Linked DNA regions of Homo sapiens. The protein of the gene in region 5 purifies or fractionates together with the protein of the main gene of each other region. This does not show direct contact. Each region holds a gene or a part of one and is shown on either strand. Other genes may lie near its edges. The genes, in order: CTTNBP2, STRIP2, DSC1, CTTNBP2NL, PRDM14, SLMAP and STRN.

Region 1 (3,500 bases), on a different chromosome or scaffold from region 5:
TCTGATTCTGTCCGACTTCATGGGTACAACACTCAAATCATGCTAATTAAACAGGTGGCTAATATGTGCTGTGAAAGAAACAGGTAAGGTACCACTATAGAAACTCGGGCGGAAGTTGGGAAGAGTACTTATTTTAGGAATTTGGGGTGGAGGCCTCTCTATCTGTGGTCACATTGAAGGATTTGCAGGTCATGCTAATTTGTTATGTCAAGGAAGAAGGGTTTGCTGAGAATAGGGAAGCAGGGGGTCTGGGCAGAAGGAGCAGCACTTGCAACACATCTCAGGCCTAGGGAGGAGGAGGTTGGCATGTGGAAAACTCAGGGACAACTACGTGGCCTTGAAGTCATTCGTTCAGGGGACATACTAGGTGGGGGATCAGATCCAGCACCTTGAATTAGTAACAGTTACATAGACTGTTTACTTGTAGAAGCCTGTCATTTATTCATCCCTTTTGTTATTTGCAAACATCAGCATCCATTTTGACCGCTCCTCCACAGTTCCTTCCCTCTTCCATATTTGGGACACTCTTCCCACCTCCCCTCACCAATACCATGTCCTGGACATCCTGTGAGAGACCCAGCTGAAGTCCCCACCTCATCTATTTGTCTTTCTTGACCACGCTGTATTTAGTCAGTTCTTCTTTTGAATTACCATAGCAGCTTGTGTCTGTCTGTACTTCAAGACTGCCAGTCTGGAAGGGATCTGAAAGATAAAGGGCCTGGCTCAATTTCCTCATTTTTCCAGCTGGTAAAATTCAAAAGAAAAAAAAAAGGAAGGCAATTGCAGTACCTGGTGGGTGGCTTTCTCCACTCCATCAAACCGCACCAGAACTGACCACTTGCTCTTCATTAGCTTTTCACACCTTTTCTTTTGTTTCCTCTGTATTTCATGAGTACACTAACTTACATGGATTTTTTTCTTCTTAGCAGCAATAACAAATAGGCATAGAATACATAGTAGGCATACACACCTCTATGCAAAATTATCCATTAACACTGAAGGAATGTATCTCTGGGGAAGGAAATAAAAACATGTGGTTACTAGAAAGTCTATTTATTGGATAGACCTTTTAATGAAACACCAGTTTTTAATGTACTGTCCGATAACCACTTTTCCCATAATACAGCCAACTTGCAAAAGGAGAAATTTCATATAAACAACATCTGCACTTTGGAGAGAGGTGGACACCCTTCCTGTTTGTTCAGGTCCTTAGGAAAGACAGATTACATTCTGCCTTTGGGTACTGTGAAATGTGATTCCGTTACGATGTCTAACAGTCTGAGCTTTAGAAGCAGTTTATTAGACAGTCATTAAGAGAATAATTCAGTCCTCCCAGAAAAAGTAACGTTTCCCTGGGGACCGAGTTACAATGAGAGCTCTACCCTCCTTCTCCCTTCCTCTACATGTGGTCTTGATGAGGCAGCTGGGGAGATCCCTGTCCCTCTGTCAGCTGCCCACAAAGCTAAGCCTGTTCTTTCAGCCCTGGCTGACGGTAGAAAGTGAGGCTTAAACAGAGAGCTTCAGAAATGTTAAGCCTGAGGAAGAAGAGGAAGTTCTTTAGCTTAATAGTGATTACTGAATTCCTTTTAAATGTGATAAATGACTCCTTTATTATTTCAGCGAGATGCTGTATCCTATTTTTCTATTAAAGATAAGCCCTATGTAGTTAATGTATACTTGCAGATTGCTGAGAGTAGATCTTAAATAAAAATAAGTATGTAAAGGGATGGATATGTTAGTCAGCTTAATTTAATAATTTCACAATGTATACATCAAAACATCATGATATATACCACAAATATATATAATTTTTGTCAATTATACCTTAATAAAAAATATAAATAGACTCTAGCCCTGGCTTTGCCACTATTACCTGTGGGACCTTGGGCGAGTTATTTTTTCTTCCTGCCTCAGGCTCCTGATATGTAAAATGGGGTAAAAATGCCTAACTCAGGCTCATGGTGAGAATTAAAGGAGAAAAATGCTTATCACACTAACACGTTTGCACAACTATAGTATGTGTTATTATCCCTCCTTCAGCCATCCCAAGTAAAGTTAAATAAGATTCAGCTACTTTTCAATTTTGATTTAAAGTTTTATATTTTTAATTTTGGGCTTCTAAAAACAAAATGTTCTAAACCAAGCCCCTGGGTTCCACCTCCCTGTCTCTCTAGTTCAAAGGTCAGGCGCCCTCCCCCTGCGATCCTGTGTGCAAGATTGTCGACTGGGCTCTGTCCGTCTGGCGTCAGCTTAACTCCTGCCTGGCCCGCTTGGGCACACCTGAAGCACTTCTTGGACCAAAATATTTCCTGTCTTGTCCTGTAGTTCCTGGGCATGCCCAAGTGACAGTGAAGTAAGTGCCATTTTTCCTTATCTTTCTGCTTATGATAGAGACGTGGCCAATTCAGATGTTTGAGGGTGAGAATGCTGACCAGGCTGCCTTGTGCCACCTCCTGTCACTGACACGGAGTGCCAGTGCTCTCTGCTCTTTCAGAGGATGGCCACAGCTTGCCTACTGTGTGCTTCCTAGGGCAGCTGCATTTTTGCTGAGAGCTAGGTTTTTCCTCTATTAGAAAATTCTCATCCAAGTTATGTTTGGCTTGCTATGCAGAGTCTCCTGAGTGAGGTACCACATAAGAAGTTTCATCAAGTATTGTATGCACACCCTCCAAAAAACCTGCATTCTGTTAATGAATTGAAAAGCTTTCCCTTTATTGAGACATATGTTCAGTACTTACTGTTTTCCTTTGAAGCATCTTATGAGAACAGACATATATACAATAAGGTTAATGAAATAGAAAATCAGGAGAAAGTTGAAATGAGAAAAAATTTGTTACCATCCAGTTTAGTAATGGTTCTGTGACCAGCAAGCAGATTTGATTCTATAGTTTCTGGTGCCATGGGCAGAAGTCTATTTTGGAAAGCAGGGGATAGAAATAATATCTTCTTAGCTGGATGTAGTGGTTCATGCCTATAATCCCATCATTGGGAAGTTGAGAGGGGAGGATCACTTGAGGCCAGGAGTTAAAGGTCAGCCCAGGCAACGTAGTGAGACCCCATCTCTATTTAAAAAAAAAAATTAGCCAGGCATAGTGGCATGTACCTGTAGTCCCAGCTATTGAGTTGGGAGGCTGAGGCAGGAGGATCAATTGAGCCCAGGAGGTCAAGACTGCAGTGAGCTTTGATTAAGCCACCGAACTCCAGCCTGAGTATTAGAGCAAGACCCTGTCTCTAAAAAGTATATGTATATTTTCTCTATTGTAAGACAAACCACCATTTTTATAACAGCTAATTGGTGGGAAAGAAGTACTATATTAAATATATATTTAGAATTTTGCTACAAAATAAATACACTTATTGATATAATTACCACTTTCTTCATTATTATGTCAGTTAAATTAAAGTCTTTTTTACATCCAGAGTCTCAAGATTCTTAGGAATCATTTTTGACCTCTCCTATATGGAATATAGTCTTTGTCAAGAATTATGGAGGTCCCAAG
Region 2 (3,500 bases), on a different chromosome or scaffold from region 5:
GTGGAAAAGTGAATGACATTGAGTCCTTTAGCCAGAAAGCAATGTCTTCATTATTGTTACTTCTAGTTTGGCATCCAACCCCAAAGCGTCACCCTAAGCTCTGGGGCCTATGCCATTTTAATTCCATGGCGTCCCTTCCTGCCCTTGAGGGGCTTCCTTCTGGGGGCTAAGCCTCCTTCTCAGGACCAAGTACTCTGGTATTCTTCAGGGGAGGTGAGTGCCTTCCTGTGTGTGTCCAGAATCAGGGTTACATGAAAAAGGTTTTAGCTGCCTCATCCTCACTTTCTCACTCCCCTCTCTCCTCACCCCTAGGCTTCTCCATGCATAATGAGGAGCCTTTTGCCCTTTTACTCTTCTCCATGGTTACCAAGTTCTGCAGTGGCCTGGCTCCTCACTTCCCCATAAAGAAGGTCCTGCTCCTGCTCTGGAAGGTGGTCATGGTGAGTAATTCTCCCCACTCCCACATTATCAGATCAGCAATGCCCTATGCCACCTCAGTTTCTTCTAGTCTCATTCCAGGAGGCTGGATCCAGGGAGCAGAACAGGCAGCCCTTAGCCAACTGCTAATATGGAGGGGCAACAAGGCTGTCCTAGAGACATCAGATGTTCTATGTTAGAATGGGTTTCATGTTTCTATTGGATGGATGGGAGATGCCACTCCATAAATTGGGGATGTCAGTGGTACCTTCTCTTATTAAAGCCAATGTTTGATGGAGAGAACACTGGTTGAAAGTTGGTAGATCTGGGCTTTGCTGATACTGAGAAACTTTGGGCAACTCTCTGTGCCTCAATTTCTCTAGCTGTAAAAGGTTGGGGTGAGTGCCTGCCCTCCCTCCAGATAAACAGAGGTTTTGTATTTTTTTTTTAATAAAAATAATTTTTTCTTACAGACAGGCCTCCCTGTGTTGCCTGGGCTGGTCTTGAACTCCTGGTCTCAAGCAATCCTTTCACCTTGGCTTCCCAAAATGTTGGGATTACAGGCATGAGCCATTGTGCCTGGCCAGGATTTGCTTTTTAAAAAATAATGAAGTTCTTATAAATATGTGGTTACATTTCTGTTACTAGTTATTCAACCTGATCCTTCATTTTTGGCTCCCATCTCACAAGGCAGGCCTAATAGGGGGAACTGCCTCTTGACTGCAGAGGAAATTGAGTGACTCTGGGGGTTTATAGCACCTGGATGGTGTTCCTTAAAAAAGTCGATAGTTTCTTTTTTTTCTTTTTTTTTTTTTTTGAGGAGGCCCGCAGGAATTCCTTTCCTAAATTCTGTGATATTTCCCATACTGGGGCAGTAAATAATGCCTTATCCTGACCCCTGAGCTCCTCAGTTGCCGTGGGGATGGTAATCATATTTGCCTCTTTATGTTTTACTACCTCCTTATTAAGGAAAAGGTCTGAAGGGACTGGAGGTTGTGGCCCTTTCTTTTCATCCATGTTTCCCTGACCTTGGCTCTCTCTTACTTCCCTTCCTTCCTCTCTCTCTGCCCCTTTCCTGTTTCTTCCTTAGTTTACCCTCGGTGGATTTGAGCATCTGCAGACTCTCAAAGTACAGAAGCGGGCAGAATTGGGCCTGCCTCCACTGGCTGAAGACAGTATCCAGGTGGTGAAGAGCATGCGTGCTGCCTCCCCGCCCTCTTACACTCTTGACCTGGGAGAGTCTCAGCTGGCACCCCCACCCTCCAAGCTGCGAGGCCGCCGTGGCTCTCGAAGGGTATGGACTGAAGCAGACAATGGTATTGGGACACCGACTGGCCAAAAATCAAGATTCTAAGTTACTCTGGGTGTGGTAGGAAAAAGCAGTAAATGACCCGGCTCATCCTGCCCAGGTTGGCCCTATGACCAACCTGAAATCTTAGGGTCTCTAGTTTGGCCTCTGTCCCCCAGCCCTGACAGCCCCCTGCGCTGTTGTGATGTGACACTGTGATATCATGTCATATATAGCCATGTCTTGCTACAGAATCATTGGCCTGGACCTCAGTGCCTGGAGTTCCTTACATTCTGAATAACAATTAAGGGTATAATCCTGGGGATAGGGACCCAGGATACCGGAACAGGTCTCCAAGCAAATCCATTTTTCTGGGGTAAGGCATTTTACTATTTTGAAGCACCAGGAAGTTTTACTGTCAGCCAGCCACACTCTTAACTGGCCCTGGAACCAAAGGCTTACATTTAAGAGATGACTGGGTAGGGGTCTATGTATATAACCATGTGACACTAAACGACAGGGATACAATCTGAAAAATGTGTCATTATGCAATTTTGTCACTGAGCAAACATCATAGAGTGTACTTACACAAACCCAGATGGTATAGCCTACTGCACACCTAGGCATATAGCCTATTGTTCCTAGACTACAAACCTGTACAGCAGGTTACTATACCGAACACCATATGCAATTGTAACCCAATGGTGTTTGTGTATCTCAACCTAGAAAAGGCCAATAAAAATACAGTATTATAATCTTATGGGTCCACAATTACATATGCAGTCCATTGTTGACTGAAGCATCGTTGTGCAGCACATGACTATAGTCTGCTGTCCTGAAAAGGTCAGAATGAAAAGTTATACTGAGATCTGACTATGTTCTTACAAACTCCCCTGCCTGACCCACTTCAGTTTATCAACAGGGCTAGATAGTAGTGCTCAGTAATCCAGTCTCCATTATCTGCAATAAAATTTTTTAACTTTATTTTTGTTTTATAAAGTAATGCTTACTCATTGTAGAAAATTTGGAACAAATATAAAAATGTGATGAAGGGAGAAAAGAAAAATCACCCACAATCTTAACAACCAGAGACAGTCACTGTTAACTTTTTGGCCTATTTCTGTCCAATCTTTTTTTCTTTGTCACAAGATTTAAAATTCCAAACTTGCTTCCCTCTGCCTAGCAGCAAGCTTCTGTCCTCCTCTTCCTCAGTCAGCCAGCTGGTGTATGCTCACAGAAGGCAAACTAATTGAATGTTCACCTAAGCAGAGCATAATTAGGAAGGAAAGTGCTGGCAAAAAAAGGCATCACTGCTTTCTGAAAGCTAAGTAATTGTGACTTTGGGATTATCTATGCTATGTTCCCTGGCTAATGGCAGGGTTACCTGAGAACTTCTTGTCCTGTTATTGGGCCGGGTGGGGACAGTAGGTTAAGGTGGGGAATTGGATGTTTTCGCAAGGGCTGTGTTCAGATTCCATGTTCCCTGAAATGTGGAGGCCTGTGGATATGGGGTGGCCTCAGACAAGGATGCCCAGAGTGAGATCTCTGCATGCCTACCCTCCCTTCTTTCCCCTCCAGCAACTCCTCACTAAGCAGGACAGCCTGGACATCTACAATGAAAGGGATCTCTTCAAGACTGAGGAGCCCGCCACAGAGGAGGAAGAGGAGTCTGCTGGTGATGGAGAACGAACCTTGGATGGAGAGCTAGACCTGCTAGAGCAGGACCCTCTGGTGCCACCTCCACCCTCACAGGCACCCCTCTCTGCTGAGCGGGTGGCTTTTCCCAAGGGCCTGC
Region 3 (3,500 bases), on a different chromosome or scaffold from region 5:
TCTGTGGAAGTCACGAGTTTCATGAGGACGTGACATTTAAGTAGATTCTTGAAGATAATAGTGTGCTATCTGGCAAAGAAGAGGAGAAAAGTATTCCTAGGAGTGGCAACCGAATGCTACAAAGCAGACAGGAAGGGGAACACTTAGTGCATTTCTAGAGAAGTTTTCAAGGTTTGGGAAAAAAGTATATGATGCAATGGAGAAGCTGAGAAAGTGACTGACAACCAAATGTAAAGTGTTTGTATTCTAAGGATGAATATATGCGCTTCATAAAGAAGGATGTAAGACATCTGTTTTATTTTCAACAGGTCATTCTGTAGTGACCTTCCTCATAATCTCATACCTTTTAGTTTTGAAAAGCATCTGAAGAAATTATCTGATCCAGCCCTAGTCTTCAAAGAAAAGTGACATGTCCCTATTTTGTAGTCTTGGTGTCTGAAATCTGGGAAGCATGTATGCGAACTCAAGCTCAGACAGCTAGTAGAAAGCAGATGTCAACTGTGTATTTTATAAATTGTTGAAAATAAATGCATTTTCATGTGAAGAAATAACCTATTTTTAATTAATCTTAGTTGGCCGATCTTGCACTGGAACATTAGTAGTTCATTTGGATGATTACAACGATCACGCACCTCAAATTGACAAAGAAGTGACCATTTGTCAGAATAATGAGGATTTTGCTGTTCTGAAACCTGTAGATCCAGATGGACCTGAAAATGGACCACCTTTTCAATTCTTTCTGGATAATTCTGCCAGTAAAAACTGGAACATAGAAGAAAAGGATGGTATGTAATCATGCTAAATTTTATAGTCAATACGGACTTCAGATTGGTGATGGTTCTTTCACCTTAGTTTATCATAATAAATACACATTTATTTTAGGAAATTATTTTATTAACCCTAAAAACAACAATACCTAATCTTTAAAAAAAATTAGTGCCATTGTGATGAGCTTAGACTCTTGTTCTGAATATCTTTTAAGAAAACATATAAGTCCCTTTTTAATTAACATTTGAGCAACATGTTAAGTACAGATTAGTTTAATATCAGCATAAAGCAACATCAATTACTTTTCTGGCTCTTCTGGGAAATCACAAATTCAAAAAAAAAAAGAAAAATTCGAGTTTTTATTCTAAATTGATTCCCTTCCACTGAGAATATTGAGTAGGAATAATACTGCCATCTAAACAGCCAATCCATATATATTCTGTCTTTTTTTTCCCTAGGTAAAACTGCCATTCTTCGTCAACGGCAAAATCTTGATTATAACTATTATTCTGTGCCTATTCAAATAAAAGACAGGCATGGTTTAGTTGCAACACATATGTTAACAGTGAGAGTATGTGACTGTTCAACTCCATCTGAGTGTAGAATGAAGGATAAAAGTACAAGAGACGTTAGACCAAATGTAATACTTGGAAGATGGGCTATTCTTGCTATGGTGTTGGGTTCTGTATTGTTATTATGTAAGTATATTAAGTATCATTATCTAGAATGTGTTAGCTAAAATTTTATCTAGTATTTTTAAAACATGGAAGTTTTTTATATTAATAGCCTTTGGGAAGTGTGTTCTTTTAAAAATATTGTATCTATTTTATGTCTTGGGGCTCTGAGTGATAAATGTATCAGTAACAGCAGATTAAATTTAAAGTCAGTTTCAGAGGTGGTAGCCTTAGTTCTTCAATAATTATCTGTGAGACATTGGGTAAATTATTTCCTCCTTTTTGAACTCATTTTTCCATGTGTAAAATGAAGAGGCTGGGTAAAACTATTAAGATTCCCTCCATGTAAAATAATATAGTCTTTCAACCAGCCATGTTTATGTAGGGAATACATACATACAAAAAGAATTTGTGAAAACAGAGCTATTCCAAAATTTACTCAGATATTTCTGTTCCATATTATTAATGAAGTGATTTAGCATCATCGTAAGACTTCCGTGAGTGAAAAATGGTCATATGAGCCACTGAGGAAAAGCAATACAGGCAAAGGATGCTAAGATTTTGCATTGTGCAAACTGTTATTTGGAGGTACAAAAGTAATAGAAATATTGCCCACGCTTAATTAAGACTGCCTTTTTCTCTTTCTTTCTTTCTGTTTCTCTCTTCTTTTCCTTTTCTTTTTCTTTCTCTCTCCCTCTGACCCCAAAGAACCCATTTGCATTTACAAACTTTTCCTATAATCTTTACTGTATCCTAATTCATTGATTTGAGTTTCAGATTAAATTGGATATTCCTCTTAGCACTTTATTAGTTGATGTACATTTTTGAAACCAGACACCAATTTTATGTAATTGCCTTTCTTGTTTGTATTTATGCCTAATGTTCTTAGTCTTGTTATTTTAAGCCCTTTAAGTGTGTTCTGTATGATTTTAACTACTAATGATGCTATCTTAAATATCAGTTAGATGAAGTTACCATTTCAATGTAGAAGAAATAAAAGACACATATAAGTTAATTCTGGACCTGGGAAGAGAGCTATTATTAATCTCTCTAAGCTACAAATAGTATAAATACATTTTTAAAATATTCTGTTTTTAAATCTTGTGACCTGAAGAGCTCAATTTGTGGAATGAATTTTTTGAGACATATGCAAGAAGACTTTAAAAAATCATGTAATCAAATGATTTAATGTCTGTGTTTTACTTTGATCTTTTTTGCTTTTTAGGTATTCTGTTTACATGTTTCTGTGTCACTGCTAAGAGAACAGTCAAGAAATGTTTTCCAGAAGACATAGCCCAGCAAAATTTAATTGTATCAAATACTGAAGGACCTGGAGAAGAAGTAACGGTAAATCAGATTTCACATCCCTTTGAATTGTACGGTGAACAAATGATGACAGATTATTACTCAACAATGTCAATGATAATATCACTAATGTTTATTGAGCACTTACTATGCTAAGCAGAGTTTCAAGTGCCCTCAGTGTTTTAAATCATTTAAACCTCCCAATTCTACAGGGCTAGGGCTGTCACAACAAACTGAGTGACTTAAACAACAGACAAGTATTGTTTCACAGATCTGGAGACTAGAAATCAGAGATCAAGGTGTTGGCAGGTCCGTGCTCCCTCTGAAGGAACTGGGGAGGGATCTGTTCCAGGACTCTCTCCTAGCTTCTGCCAATTCCCTGGCTTATGGCAGTGGAAATCAAATCTTCATATGGCGATTCTCCATGTGTGCATGTCTGTGTCCAAATTTCCCCTTTTTATAAGGATACTGATTATATTCGCTTAGGGACCCACTCTAATCCCATATAACCTCATCTTAGCTAATTACATCTACAATGACCCTATTTCCAAATAAGTTCACATTCTGAGTTACTGAGGGTTAGGGCATATGAATTTTTAGGGGACTCAATTCAACCCATCACACCTATGATACTATTATTCTGATTTTATGTATGAGGAACAGAGAGGCACAGCAGGCAAGTGATTTGCCTATGGTGAAAAAAAATGAAAATGAATTGTTAGTTTCCATTTTTCAAATTCACTTTATCACTCT
Region 4 (3,500 bases), on a different chromosome or scaffold from region 5:
GAGCTGAGATCACACCACTGTAATCCAGCTTGGGTGACAGAGCAAGACTGTCTCAAAAAAAAAAAAAAAAACACAAAACAAACAAACAAAAAAACAGGCTTTGAGCCAGTTCTCCTGTTTTCTATTCTACATTTCACCTCTCCTCTGCAGTACCTGCCACCTCCAGGTTCCATCTCTTTGGGGCTCTGCAAGGCAAAACAGCTTCCCTCCTTCAAAGTAAAGTAGTTACCACAACTCCAGCCTCTTTTCTTCTTCAAAATATTATTAAAATTTTTTCTCTGCTAGAGGCTCTCTCCTTTGTGGGGTTTTAGTCTTTTTATTCCATTTCTGTAATTTTTGAGGACTCCCAAAAGGGAGAAGATAAGACTTACCACTTTTGGCCAAAAGCATGTCTTTCTATTAAATTGAAAAATTAGATTAAAAAAAGGAAATGTGCCAAATTTTTTTTCTTTCATTTATTTTGAGAGACAGGGTCTCGCTGTGTTGCCTGGGCGGGAGTACAGTGGCTATTAACAGGTGCGATCATAGCACCCTATAGCCTGGAACTCTTGGGCTCCAGTGATCCACCTCAGCCTCCCTAGTATCTGGGACTACAAGCATACACCACAGCACCAGTCTCTTCTTTTTTTTTTTTTTTTTTTTTTTTTTTAGACAGAGTTTCACTCTTGTTGCTCAGGCTGGAGTGCAATGGCACAATCTTGGCTCACCACAACCTCTGCCTACTGGGTTCAAGCGATTCTCCTGCCTCAGCCTCCCGAGTAGCTGGGATTACAGGCATGTGCCACCATGCCTGGCTAATTTTGTATTTTTAGTAGAGACAGGGTTTCTCCATGTTGGTCAGGCTGGTCTCGAACTCCCAACCTCAGGTGATCCACCTGCTTTGGCCTCCCAAAGTGCTGAGATTACAGGCATGAGCCACCACTCCTGGCCTCTTTTTTTTTTTTTGAGACAAAGTCTCACTCCGTTGCCTGGGCTGGAGTGCAACGGCATAATCATGGCTCACTGCAACCTCGACCTCCCTGGGCTGAGGTGATCCTTCCACCTCAGCCTCCTGAGTAGCTGGGACTACATGCACACCTCACCATGCCTGGCTAATTTTTGTACTTTTTTGTAGAAATGGGGTTTTGGGTTGGGCACAGTGGGTCACACCTGTAATCCCATCACTTTGGGAAGCTGAGGCAGAAGGACCACTTGAGTCCAGGTGTTTGAGACCAGCCTGGGCAACATGGCGACACCCCATTTCTACAAAAAATCAGCAGGCCATAGTGGTGTATGCCTGTAGTCTCAGCTGCTCAGGAGGCTGAGGTGGGAGGATCACTTGAGCCTAGGAGGCAAAGATTGCAGTGAGCCGAGATGATGCCACTGCATTTCAGCTTGGGTGAGAGTAAGACCCTGTCTCCTCAAAAGGAAGGAAGGGGGTGGGGGAGGGAGAGGGAGAGGGAGAAATAAATGGCTGGTCTCAAACTCCTGTGCTCAAGCAATCCTCCTGCCTCTGCCTCCCAAAAGTGCTGGGATTACAGGCATGAGCTCATTTTTATTTTTATAGACAGGTTTCATGTCCCAGAAAATTTACTCTCTTCACTCATAAAAATTTTTAGTGAGAAGACTAAGAAATGGCCTTTGGGACAAGAGTGCTCTACCCTGGAGGTCTGGGCCAAGGCACTTCTGAAGCATGAGCAGAAGCTACTAAGCAATCAGAATATTTGCAGTTGTAGATGGGATTATGTGAAAAATGTCTCTTTAAATTTGTATTCTTGGCCATGTGTGATGGCTCACACCTGTAATCCCAGCATTTTGGGAGGCTGAGGCGGGTGGATCACTTGAGCCCAGGAGTTCCAGACCAGCCTGGGCAAGATGGCAAAACCCCATCTCTACAAAAAATACTAAAATCAGCTGGGCGTGGTGGCGCACACCTGTAGTCCCAGCTACTTGGGAGGCTGAGAGGTGGGAGAATCTCTTGAGCTCGGGAGGCCAAGGCAGCAGTGAGCCATGATTGCACTACTACAGTCCAGCCTGGGTGACAAAGCAAGACCCTGTCTCGAAAAATAAATATATTTGTCTTCTCCTTAAAATTGGGCTTAATCCTTTGGCACCAGGGTAAGTGAAATAGGGGTAGGCAAGTTAAATAAAAGGGCGTATGAAAAATCTCCATTTAAGGTCTCTATATTTGAGCCTTTTTACATGCAGTAGGAAGTCAAGAGAGTCTATCCACCTCTTATCTAACTATATAAAAATGTATATTATTAGTTAAACAAGGCACACTTAGAATGTCACCTATTTGAAATGTTGAATTTCAGGCTCCTTCTTTGGTGCCTCTGGTGATTTGAGAATTGAGAAGAAAATCTCAGCTTTCAGGTTTCTGTGGTCCTGTCTTGCTCCATCACCTACACCTGGCCCCTAGTAACACCAAACTGCCTGCAGTTTCTTGGAATTTCTGTTAATTCTCGACACCTCCTCAACCCCTCTAGCTAATTAGTTGCTCTCTTCTCTCTGTTTGCATATCATTCTCTACATACTTCAAGTAAAGTAAGTATCTTACTGTTTAACACAGAGCTTTCATGTCTTTCACTGTAAGGCAGTGTGCTCCTTGATAGCCCTTGCTGGGTTTCATTTATTCGTTTGTTTGTTTGATCTCTGGAACTATCTAAGGTGCCTGATTTGGCACTTATTATTGGTTGTATTAATAAATGTGACTCCTTGATATTTGAAAATGAAATTTAAAAAATTCTTTAAAGGTGATCCTAGACCTTGAGGAAGAAAGGCAGCGGCATGCACAGGATACGGCTGAAGGAGATGATGTCACCTACATGCTAGAGAAGGAAAGAGAGAGGCTGACTCAACAGGTAATTAAGGTAGAGGGATTCACAGTAGCATTTGCCTGGAACAGCATTTCCCAAAGATTATTCTGCAGGATGCCAACTGGTATTGTTCAGAAAAGGGGCTTTGTGGTCAAATAAGTTTAGGAACTACTGGATTAAGCAAAGTTAAACAGGTTTCTAACTTTGTTAGGATCTTTAGTATGCAGAAGCACATTGTGAGTCTTCAAGAACAAGATAGGGTATTCTGTGTTTAGCAAATCCATGGTTTTATAAAATCTTTTATTGGCATAGATCCCTCACTGTGGGATTATTATTGTTCCGTAGAACACTCTTTGGGGAATGGTAACTTAGCGCTTGTAGCTCTCAAACTTTTGACTTAGAACCCCCAGTAAGAAGTGACATTTTATGTCACAACCCAGTATATGTAGACATACACAGTTACGCCTGAAACAAAAATCTCATGAAATCATATATAACCCCTACTGCTACAGTACACATTGATGTTTTCTGTTTATATATTTTTTTAAAATTCTAGTCGTGGCTCAGTTAGTTTCCCCATCCATTAATGGATCTCAGAGTTTGAAAAACACTGAGTTTCTTCAACCCTTTCCCTCTCACGCAGAGTCTCTGCCTCAAATAGGGTTGGGAAGACAATTAAAACAGGCTATATTTGTGTAAAAA
Region 5 (3,500 bases):
GAGACAATTCTGTGATGTGGGAGGTAAATCTGTTTCTGGTGGGTCTGCTGCTGAAAATGGGGCGGGAGACTAGTCCGGGGAAATCTTGGCCTTTGCCCTTTTGGGAGAGTCCTGGTCAGAGAGAGAGGACATCCAGGGCAGATATCTGTGGTTTGTGTTGCCTGTAAAAGGAAGGAACGGCCAGTGTTTGCTCCATGAGGATAGCACCTCTGCATGAATTCTGTGTTTTGTGGGTGCCTTAAGTCATTTTAGTCTGGAAGATTAGCAATGGAATATACATTTAAAGAATCAATATGTTGTATTATATTTATAGACAAAACTAAATGCTTTAGATATTATAGAGTGCTGAAACTATGCTAAAGAGAATAAAAACAAGTTTTAAAATTCAATATTATTCACCTATAAAATTAGTCAAGGATTAAAAAAAAAATAACCAGATACTCTTCAAGATCTAGTGATGATATATTAGGGATATGCTAGTGGGACTGCAGTTTATTACCTGCAGGAGAAAATTTGTCAGAATGTATCAGATACCTTAAAATGTTCAAAGTCCCTTGACCCTGAATTTCTACTTCTAGGAATATAGTACAGGAAAATAATCTGAAATTGAGGCTATGTGGAATATGTTAATCCTAGGGTTGTTTATAATAACAAAATGTTGGAGACAGCGAAATTGCCAGCAGCAGAGAAAGAAGTAATCTTTCTTTGTTTTTTTTTTTTTGTTTTTTTTTTCTTGAGACGGAGTTTTTGTCTGTTACCCAGGTTGGAGTGCAGTGGCGTGATCTCAGCTCACTGTGACCTCCACCTCCTGGGTTCAAGCAATTCTCTTGCCTCAGTCTTCCGAGTAGCTAGGATTACAGGCATGTGCCACCATGCCCGGCTAATTTTTGTATTTTTAGTAGAGAGGGGTTTCACCATGTTGGCCAGGCTGGTCTCGAACTCCTGACCTCATGATCCGCCTGCTTTGGCCTCCCAAAGTGCGGGGATTACAGGTGTGAGCCACCAGGCCCGGCCTTGAAAGAAATAATCTATAGCTCCATTAATATGCATGAAACCTAACTGGGAGTAAAATATAAAACTATTCAGTTGTGTTTAAGTGGTGGAATTAAATAAAACCTTTTTGTTTCACTTACCTCTGCTTATGAAATTAACATGTGCTCACTATAGGAATTTGGGAAGCAAGAAAGTGATAAAAGTAAGAATCTTTTAGAATATGTCACATTAGGCAGGCTCAGTGGCTTACACCTGTAATTCTAGCACTTTAGGAGGCCAAGGTGGGAGGATCACTTGAACCCAGGAGTTTGAGGCCAGCCTAGGAAAGAGTGAGGCCCTGTCTCTACAAAAAATTTTTTTAAAAAAATTTGCCAGGCGTGATGGTGCATGCCTTTAGTTCCAGCTACTCAGGGGGCTAAGGTGGGAGGATCATTTGAGCCCAGGAATTCGAGGCTACTGTGACCTGTGATTGAGCCACTGCACTCCAGTCTGGGCAACAGAGTGAGACTCTGTCTCTGAAAAAAACAAACAAACCCAATATGTGACATTACCTAGAGAGGTGTCCTTAAACTAACAAATCTATGTTGGCATAAGTAAATTTATAAACTACTTGTAATGACATAAAAATCAGAATGATAGAAGTGTATTTGGTGGACTCAAGTGTGATATTTAGGTTACAAGTATTAAAAAATTTATTTTATAGATTAGACCAAAAAAGAAGTACAATACAAACTTCATGTCTTATTTCATTTAGATCTTTGAAGATGGTCATTTGAGCCACTTTATAGATGGAAAAGGAGGTACGGGGAACTGGATGTCCTATGTCAACTGTGCCCGCTTCCCCAAGGAGCAGAACCTAGTTGCTGTGCAGTGTCAAGGGCATATATTTTATGAGAGCTGCAAAGAGATCCATCAGAACCAAGAGCTCCTTGTGTGGTATGGAGACTGCTATGAGAAATTTCTGGATATTCCTGTGAGCCTTCAGGTCACAGAGCCGGGGAAGCAGCCATCTGGGCCCTCTGAAGGTGAGTGCACACCCTCGCCTTGCCCAATGAGGGCATCCCAGTAGAAGGACTGGGCTCTTTTCCACAAACCCTCCATGCACAGCTCCTCCCTCCTAAAGGCTAATGCAGAGGACTAACCGAGAGTGTCTCTAACCAGGGGGGAATTACCCAGGTGAAGGAAAGCATCCTCAATTTCCCAAAGCTGCGGAAGCTACTCCTATTTATAAAGATATATACTCCTATTTATAAAGACTTGTTCTTCTTCCCTACCTTCCACCCCAAGAGTAAAAGAAAACGTACTAAATGGATGTAACTTCTACCATAGGTGAGCCAGTTTCTGATTCATCTCTGCCCAGGCTAATGTAGCTGAAGTCTAATCACTAGAGCAGTGTTTTTCAAATGGTGGGTTGCAGAGTTGCATGTCTTAGTGGGGTGGGAAATCAATTTAGTGGTCAAGACCCACATTAAAAAAAAAAAAAAGTATAGAGTAGAATAGAAAATATTGATGGGAATCCCTTAAGAGTAAGGATTGTTTTGTGAAATTTCTATTTCACATGGGTATATGTGGGTATGGTGGGTGTCAAGCATAAAATACATTGCCTACTATGGGTCTCAGGCAAGTTTGAGAAATACTGAGCTGGACTCTCACTCTCAAACTTTAATGTGGGAATGAATACCCAGGGATCTTCATGATGCTGGTTCTCATTCAGGGTAGGGGCCCAGGATTTGGTATTTTTATCAACTTGCAGGGAGTGCTGCTGGTCCTGGTCCCTGGTCCACATTCCAGTAGCAAGGGGCGAGGGAACCACCAGCCCACTCTAGGGGTGAGACTTTGGAATTTGCATGTTAAATAAGCTCTCCAAGTGATTTCTATATACACTGAAGTTTAGGAACTACTAATCTAGTAGGTGGGACAAGATAAATGTAAATTCCTGTAAATAAGAGAGAAGGCAGGCCGGATACTGTGGCTCACACCTGTAATCTCAGCACTTTTGGAGGCGGAGATGGGCGGATCACTTGAGGTCAGGACTTCAAGACTAGCCTGGCCAACATGGTAAAACCTCATCTCAGGTCGGGCACAGTGGCTCACGCCTCTAATCCCAGCACTTTGGGATGCCGAAATGGGCAGATCACCAGGTCAGGAGATCAAGACCATCCTGGCTAACGTGGTGAAAACCCGTCTCTACTAAAAATACAAAAAATTAGCGGGGCGTAGTGGCACACACCTGTAGTTCCAGCTACTCAGGAGGCTGAGGCAGGAGAATCATTTGAACCCAGGAGACAGAGGTTGCAATATGCCAAGACCGCACCACTGCACTCCAGCCTGGGCAACAGAGTAAGACTCCGTCTCCAAAAAAAAAAAAAGAGAGAGAGAGAAGGCAAATTATTATGATGTAATAAATGTGTAAGGAGCAGGTTTAAAAAAAAAATGGCCCAGGCGTGGTGGCCCACGCCTGTAATCCCAGCACTTTGGGAGGTGAGGCGGGCGGATCACGAGGTCAG
Region 6 (3,500 bases), on a different chromosome or scaffold from region 5:
TCCATGTTGGTCAGGCTGATCTCAAACTCCCAACCTCAGGTGATCCACCAATCTTGGCCTCCCAAAGTGCTGGGATTACAGGTGTGAGCCACTGCGCCTGGCCTATTTTTTTTTTTTTTTTAAAGAAAATTCAAGGGAAGATTGTCCAGTACTCTCGTATTAGACACTTAGAATGGAAAAAGCAGAGGTGAAGATTTGGAGTTGGTAAGACTGTCACTTTCTGAGTTATGTCGTGAGTTCCTACAGAGGGCCTTTGGATAGGAAATCTGTTTGAGCTACTCTGCGTCAGCACTTTGAGCTTGCTGGTATATGTATATATTGATGGCTGGTGTAGATATATTGCCATCTAATGCTCAGAACACACTTGTATTGCAAGAAAATATTTTTTTGCTTGTTTTTTTGAGACATAGTCTTGCTCTGTTGCCCAGGCTGGAGTGCAGTGGTGATCTTGGCTCACTACAACCTCCGTCTCCCGAGTTCAAGTGATTCTGGAGCCTCCCAAGTAGCTGGGACTACAGGTGCATGCCACCATGCCCAGCTAATTTTTGTATTTTTAGCAGAGATGGGGTTTCACTATATTGGCCAGGCTGGTCTCAAACTCCTGACCTCGTGATCCACCCACCTTGGCCTCCCAAAGTGCAGAGATTACAGGCATGAGCCACTGCACCTGGCCTCAAGAAAAATTATATATCACGTGGAATAGGATAGTAGTCTCTGCACTGATTTTCGTTGATAATGGCTGTTCTTCTTATCACCATTTTGCTATTTCTTTGTCTGGGCTATTACAGGGTTATTACAGAAATTTCCAGAAAGACCCCTGCCTGTCGAATGTTTACTTCAAGCTTGAGCTCCTGGTATATTATGAGGAAATTATATGATACCCCAGGAGAGGTCTTCCTTTCCCATGCCATTGTAAAATTCCTAAAGTAAAATTAATTTGCCTTCTTGTCAAAGAAGGAGCCAATGTTGTTTTAAAATTTTAGCTTGAGAGATAGGTGGGGAAGAAATTAAATAGACAAGTAATCACTATTCAGAAGAGAAGGGAGAGTCATTGTACGAGGCCCAAGATACTTGCCCAAAAATATCGCAGAGAAAAACTAGTCTTTGGGGTCCTATTTTTTGAGTGGAACATTTGAGTTATTTAAAATTAGAATTTTATTTTGGTCAGATTAGAATTTCTAGGGTATGTCATATGTGTTTTTAAATTGAAAGCTCTTAAAACTCCTATTGTAGTTTAATGTCATTATCCATTAATTTACATAAATCTGATTTGGATCTCTATTTTCATCGTAGACTGTGTAGGGGCAATTTTTCCTAAAGGTTCTGTGACATAGTGCTACCTTTTTTTTAAAACCTGTCTTGCCCAGGCATTATTGAGTGCCCCCTGGTGCCAGCATGTGTATTTCACGACTGTATCAACAAATCATGATCATCTTCTCTGGCCATTGTGCCCTTTCAGATTCCAAACTTGTTACCTCTCAGTCCTTCCTACAAACTTAGAAAGTCTAATATCTTAATGTTTACTTATGTAGCAACCTCCCTTTCTCCCATCCCTAAATCCTCTTGTAATTAATTATTTTCCTTTGGAACTTTTTAAATCTACAATTTCCTTATAATATGGTAACCAATATTAATTTTCTTGTTCTGCGCCAAGTTTGATTTTATACAAATTGTTTCCAGTTTGGGTCATGAGCACAAAACCAGGTATTTTTAAAAATCTATATAACCCTTCAATGAGGCAGTATTAATTTTATTAACTCATTAATTCAACCAATAATTCTTGATTGTTTACTGTGTTAGATATTGGGGTATCCCCAATACCTGACAGCTGTGAGCAAAACAAATGCCCTACACACATGAGGTGTACAGTCCAGTAGAAAAGATAAACAATAAGCAAATTAATAGATAATATGATGTCCAATAAGGACTTCAAAGGAAAATAAAGCAGAGTAAAGAGCCAGAGAATGACAGTGAGCTGTTTTTCACATGAGTCATCAGAAAAGGCCTCTTTAAAGAATTGACATTTGAACAGAAAAACGAATCAAGGGCGTCAACTGTTTATTGCTTTTATTGCTTACCATTTGACCAAGCAATTCTACACATAGGATTCACCCTAAAAAAAAAAAAAAAAAAAAAAAAAAGGATTGTATATAGTGTTTAAACACTGAACAGCCTAAAATGTCAAAAATAAAGGGTTGGGCAAATAAGTTATATATACTATAACTATTTTTTTGTTGAAAGAGTTTCATCAACAGAAGGATAGGGAACACTGCATTTATTGTGATCACTCCCTATTTAATGTTTGTTTTTACATGTTTATAAATGCATAGGAAAAAATCCAGAAGGAATATCAGAAGTAATTTTCTGTGTGTTGGGGAGATGAAGATCACTTTGGTTTTTTTTTCCTCTTTGCTATCTGTATTTTGACGCTTTCTGCATCAAACGTGGATTGTTTATACACTTTAATCAAAAGCAACAGCTCTGACAACCCAGGTTATGCATTAGCTACAATCCTGTATGGATTATTCTTTTATTCTAATGGGCCAAGAAAATGATGGATATACTTTTGCAGCCCAATTGCAGAGGTTACACATCGATACTGAGAATCTCCGGGAGGAGAAGGACAGTGAAATCACAAGTACTAGAGATGAATTGCTTAGTGCCCGAGATGAAATTTTGCTCCTTCATCAAGCAGCAGCAAAGGTTGCCTCTGAGCGGGACACTGACATTGCTTCTTTACAAGAAGAGCTTAAGAAGGTGAGAGCTGAGCTTGAGCGGTGGCGGAAAGCAGCGTCTGAATATGAGAAAGAAATCACAAGTCTGCAAAACAGTTTTCAGCTTAGATGTCAACAGTGTGAGGACCAGCAGAGAGAAGAAGCAACAAGGTTGCAAGGTGAATAAATGTATTTTACATAAAGCTGTTAACTTTTGACAATGATAACTTCTTAACTTGTTTAAAAAAGAAACATGCAGGCTTTTTTTTTCTTTGTTAGCTATCAGTTGTATAAACCAATGTTTTTAAATCGGAGCTAAAAATGTATTTTCAGGTCTGCAAGTTCTACTTAAATTTATATTTTTTTACGGTTTTATATTTTATTTTAAAATTGTTAAAAATTGCTTGTCTTATAAAAGTGAAGTGGAAAAAAATACTATTGTTCAAGTACAAGCTGATAGCAGTCCTTGAGGTATACATGCAAAGTAACAGGAATCATATAATTAACCATGTAAAATCTACTTGCTTTTAAGGGGGCAAAAAGTATGTTCTCCTCTGAAATCTTTTCCTTTATCCTTTGAAGTATTATGGAAGTTATATTTCTGTATTAACAAATATGTTTTGGGACTATTTTAGGTGAACTAGAGAAGTTGAGAAAGGAATGGAATGCATTGGAAACCGAATGCCATTCTCTAAAAAGGGAAAATGTTTTGCTATCATCAGAACTGCAACGGCAAGAAAAAGAATTGCACAAGTATGCAAGAACTCTCTGTTTTTCAGATATAAA
Region 7 (3,500 bases), on a different chromosome or scaffold from region 5:
TTTATGTACATTTATAACTATACTGTTTGAAATAGCATTTGAGCTGTTATGGGTCAAGTTTTATTTTATACTAAATGATTAATTTTCAATTCTATTTGAAGAAAGCCATATTTATTCTGAATAGGAAATTCTATTTTTCATTTCTCGTAATTTCATATTTTAAATCAACTTAATTTTATATTAATAGTATGATTTGGTACAGCTCAATACAGATCATGTTGTGGCACTCAGAATTCCAAACCTGAAGCTTCTTATTGGATGCAGGAAGTCAGGAAATAAGTGCTTTTTCAGGTTATGAAGAAGATATTACAGACTCTTTTTTGGTTTTTGGCTTTCTTAACCATTGCTTTCTGTCGTTAGCCATAATCTAGACAATCACAGTTTAGGTTGCAGTTGATGAAGAATACGACATACATATACTCTTGTTTTAATCTGAGAACTAGCTTTAAAAGTGATGATATGTTGTGTGTGTGCACATGCATGTGTGAACATGTACATGCATATGTTTACATATGTTCTTGTGGTGTTCTCACTCTCTGTCTCTCTCTCTCTCAAAAAGTTTCTTTATTCCTTTGTGGTTTTCATCATTTTCCCTTCCTAACCTGTTGTTCATTGTTTTCTTCTGATATGCTGAGACTTGTTTGGGGAAGTAAGCATGAATAGAACTTTGAGCTACTTGGATGTAAACGAGAGAGACAGGAAAATAAATTAAACTCAGGTGATAGAATTGGAAAAGGAGAATTTTTTTCAGCAAGAAATTACAGGTTTTAGACTCTCAATAAATTTAAAATCATGTTTAAATATATGACTCAAAGCTACAGTAGCAAAATAAAAAACTAATATGAAATTAGAAAGGATGAGAACATTTTTGTAATTACCTTCAGAGATTATATGGCCAATTTGTGAACATCCTGAGTGGAAATAGTGCTTTTTAATGACTGCAGGTTAATAAGATGTCAAGTCTGGTAGATAAGATGGATAAAGAGAACTAGGCGAGTGAATCCACATTTTCCCCCAAGAGATGTGACTCTAAATTAATAGGACTTTTTACTTGACACTGGAAACATTTTGAGAAAACTTCCAAGAATGTTTTTAACAAAGGCAACATTACTGGAATAAATGATCATTATTTTGAGTTGTAATATGTCCTGACATTTTCTAAATTATGTTTTTTACTTTTAAAGTTGTATAAAGAAAACTTAAATTAGTCTCTTATTATGTTTTACTGTGAACTACCCCTTGTTATTTATAATTGATTGTGTTGTTCTGTTTTGGAATTTAGCATATTTTTTTAAAAAAATGAAAGGACCAAACAAGCTTCAAGGAGAAAGTGAGTTTTATATAGAGTTTAAAGTGATGAAGGATGTTTGTTAGAATAGGAATAAATTACCCTTCTTCTCATTGATGTCAATGGCGATTTGACTGTGGTAAAGTCAAAGGTAGTTGAAGCAGATACGTCACAAGCTAGGTATGAGTAGTGTTCTTTGCATTCTGCCGACTTCTCTGATTTATCATCAAGTGGAGAAGCTTCCTTAAAAGTGTTACCAAATAAGAACTTTCTTTTGCCTGTTTCCATGATTTGATTTCAATCATATTTATTTTCTAGCTCTCAAAGCAATTGAGGCTATTCTCTGAAACGTCTCTCTCAGAATATATGGGATATTTCACTTAAAGTATTTCTTTTTTTGTTGTTACTGTTATTCTCTTGCTGGACTTTACCACGGGTGTTGCTCAATGGAGTATTATCTGTGGAGGAAATAATGCGTAGTCTGAATTTTATAAATAAACATCTCTTTGTTTAGGATCTAAACCAGGTGTAACTGACTAAGAACTTACTCCACATGGTCAAGTGAGTTTTTGTTTTATATTTATTTTTTTTTGAGACAGAGTCTCGCTCTGTTGCCCAGGCTGGAGTGCAGTGGTGCGATCTCAGCTTACTGCAACCTCCACCTCCTGGGCTCAAGCGATTCTCCTGCCTCAGCCTCCCAAGTAGCTGGGACCACAGGCGTGTGCCACCATATCTGGTTCATTTTTGTATTTTGCGTAGAGACAGAGTTTCACCATGTTGGCCAGGCTGGTCTCGAACTCCTGACCTCAAGTGATCCGCCTGCCTCGGCCTCCTAAAGTGCTGCGATTACAGGTGTGAGCTACCGTGCCCAGCCACATTTTATATTTAAATAACAGGCTGGGTAATTACCTGCCACTAGCATTGGGAAAAGACTGTCTTCAGTTTTTAAGATGTTATATTTCTAGGAGCCACATGAAAATCCTGTAAGATTAGACTATTTTTAGCTGTATTTTCTATTATGTGAATATAAACTTGTAATACCTATTCTAGGGTTCAAAAAATTTTTTAAACTCTATTTTGAAATAATTTTAAACTTGCAGAAAAGGTACAAAAATAGTACGAGAACTTCTGGCTACCCTTCACACATATTTAGCAGTTTTTAACATTTTGTCACATTTGCTTTTTCACTCTATATATGTGTATAATTTTTAATTCTGAACCATATGAGAGACGTCATGCTCCTATTCCCCTAGATCCTTTAGCGTGTAATTCTAAGATCAAGGGCATTCTCTGATGTAGTGTATTACAATGATCAAAATCCGGAAACTTAACATTGACACAATACTATTATCTGAATTACTATTTATATTCAAATTTTGAGAGTTGTTCCAGTAATATATTTTACAAGGACACCCCTTCCTCTCCCTGGACCATAATTTAATTTTTAAAACTTTGACATACCTTCAATTAGTGTTTTCTTTATGTCAGTTTTTCTTTTCTCTTAAAAAAAGCTTAACAGAAATCACTGAGGTTTTAAATTACTGATTTCTTTTTAATAAAAGCCTTTCAGGAAGAATGTGTGATCATTTAGGAACCAATTTTGACAGTTGTGTGATCTGCATGAACCATCAGGTTGGGAGAGAGTCAGAAGTTAGAATAGGTACTGATTTTGTCACCTGATTGTGGAGGAGTCACAACTTTTTCTGAACCTTGATGTGTTCACTGTAATATAGGCTTAATGATATGTGCTTGCCTGTCTCATTGTGTGTATAATTGAAGTTTCTTTGGAACTTACTAACACAAAAAATACAGTTAGGATGCTGACTTTTAGGATTCCAAACCTAGTTCTGTCAAATGACCATTTCTATTATGATGAGGAAGAGTGATAAAGGGATTTAAGGATTAAGAAGCCCTCTTTGTCATATATATCTTTAGATGATAATGATGTGATACAGAACTTTGTATGCAAAAAGAGCTGAGATTTAAATTTGAGAATTATCTCCATGTAAGTGATGATAGAACTTACTTAAAGTAGCAAAATCTCACAGAACATTGTAGAATGAACAGCGTTAGTGGCTCTAGACTAAGCCATAGATGGCACCCACATATAGCAGGAAATTGTAATTTATAAATATTTCCAGATTTATCAGGCAATTCTCTTTCCTAACATTGAAATTTTGAAAACAGTCACAGAATAAATGAACTAAAGACA

What was found.
Region 1: the proteins of PRDM14 (region 5) and CTTNBP2 purify together in Homo sapiens (affinity purification with mass spectrometry; 2 studies listed by BioGRID and IntAct, with this or other methods). This does not show direct contact.
Region 2: the proteins of PRDM14 (region 5) and STRIP2 purify together in Homo sapiens (affinity purification with mass spectrometry; 2 studies listed by BioGRID and IntAct, with this or other methods). This does not show direct contact.
Region 3: the proteins of PRDM14 (region 5) and DSC1 purify together in Homo sapiens (affinity purification with mass spectrometry, with the first as the bait; one large-scale study listed by BioGRID). This does not show direct contact.
Region 4: the proteins of PRDM14 (region 5) and CTTNBP2NL purify together in Homo sapiens (affinity purification with mass spectrometry; 2 studies listed by BioGRID and IntAct, with this or other methods). This does not show direct contact.
Region 6: the proteins of PRDM14 (region 5) and SLMAP purify together in Homo sapiens (affinity purification with mass spectrometry; 2 studies listed by BioGRID and IntAct, with this or other methods). This does not show direct contact.
Region 7: the proteins of PRDM14 (region 5) and STRN purify together in Homo sapiens (affinity purification with mass spectrometry; 2 studies listed by BioGRID and IntAct, with this or other methods). This does not show direct contact.

The regions. Positions count from the first base shown.
Region 1 is NC_000007.14:117,726,942-117,730,441, reverse strand, and holds part of CTTNBP2 (cortactin-binding protein 2), read left to right. Parts: intron 1-416; exon of another isoform or gene 417-702; intron 703-789; exon of another isoform or gene 790-1,011; intron 1,012-2,174; coding exon 2,175-2,353; intron 2,354-3,500. UniProt on the Homo sapiens protein: Regulates the dendritic spine distribution of CTTN/cortactin in hippocampal neurons, and thus controls dendritic spinogenesis and dendritic spine maintenance.
Region 2 is NC_000007.14:129,454,932-129,458,431, forward strand, and holds part of STRIP2 (striatin-interacting protein 2), read left to right. Parts: intron 1-312; coding exon 313-440; intron 441-1,507; coding exon 1,508-1,711; intron 1,712-1,768; exon of another isoform or gene 1,769-2,081; intron 2,082-2,891; exon of another isoform or gene 2,892-3,151; coding exon of another isoform or gene 3,152-3,283; coding exon 3,284-3,500. UniProt on the Homo sapiens protein: Plays a role in the regulation of cell morphology and cytoskeletal organization. Required in the control of cell shape. Calmodulin-binding scaffolding protein which is the center of the striatin-interacting phosphatase and kinase (STRIPAK) complexes.
Region 3 is NC_000018.10:31,131,857-31,135,356, reverse strand, and holds part of DSC1 (desmocollin-1 isoform Dsc1a preproprotein), read left to right. Parts: intron 1-572; coding exon 573-785; intron 786-1,226; coding exon 1,227-1,466; intron 1,467-2,667; coding exon 2,668-2,789; intron 2,790-3,500. UniProt on the Homo sapiens protein: A component of desmosome cell-cell junctions which are required for positive regulation of cellular adhesion.
Region 4 is NC_000001.11:112,451,714-112,455,213, forward strand, and holds part of CTTNBP2NL (CTTNBP2 N-terminal-like protein), read left to right. Parts: intron 1-2,735; coding exon 2,736-2,843; intron 2,844-3,500. UniProt on the Homo sapiens protein: Regulates lamellipodial actin dynamics in a CTTN-dependent manner. Associates with core striatin-interacting phosphatase and kinase (STRIPAK) complex to form CTTNBP2NL-STRIPAK complexes.
Region 5 is NC_000008.11:70,064,753-70,068,252, reverse strand, and holds part of PRDM14 (PR domain zinc finger protein 14), read left to right. Parts: coding exon 1-23; intron 24-1,747; coding exon 1,748-2,018; intron 2,019-3,500. UniProt on the Homo sapiens protein: Transcription factor that has both positive and negative roles on transcription. Required for the maintenance of embryonic stem cell identity and the reacquisition of pluripotency in somatic cells.
Region 6 is NC_000003.12:57,909,809-57,913,308, forward strand, and holds part of SLMAP (sarcolemmal membrane-associated protein), read left to right. Parts: intron 1-2,078; exon of another isoform or gene 2,079-2,113; intron 2,114-2,330; coding exon of another isoform or gene 2,331-2,383; exon of another isoform or gene 2,384-2,572; coding exon 2,573-2,893; intron 2,894-3,349; coding exon 3,350-3,467; coding exon of another isoform or gene 3,468-3,500. UniProt on the Homo sapiens protein: Associates with the striatin-interacting phosphatase and kinase (STRIPAK) core complex, forming the extended (SIKE1:SLMAP)STRIPAK complex.
Region 7 is NC_000002.12:36,851,537-36,855,036, reverse strand, and holds part of STRN (striatin), read left to right. Parts: intron 1-3,500. UniProt on the Homo sapiens protein: Calmodulin-binding scaffolding protein which is the center of the striatin-interacting phosphatase and kinase (STRIPAK) complexes.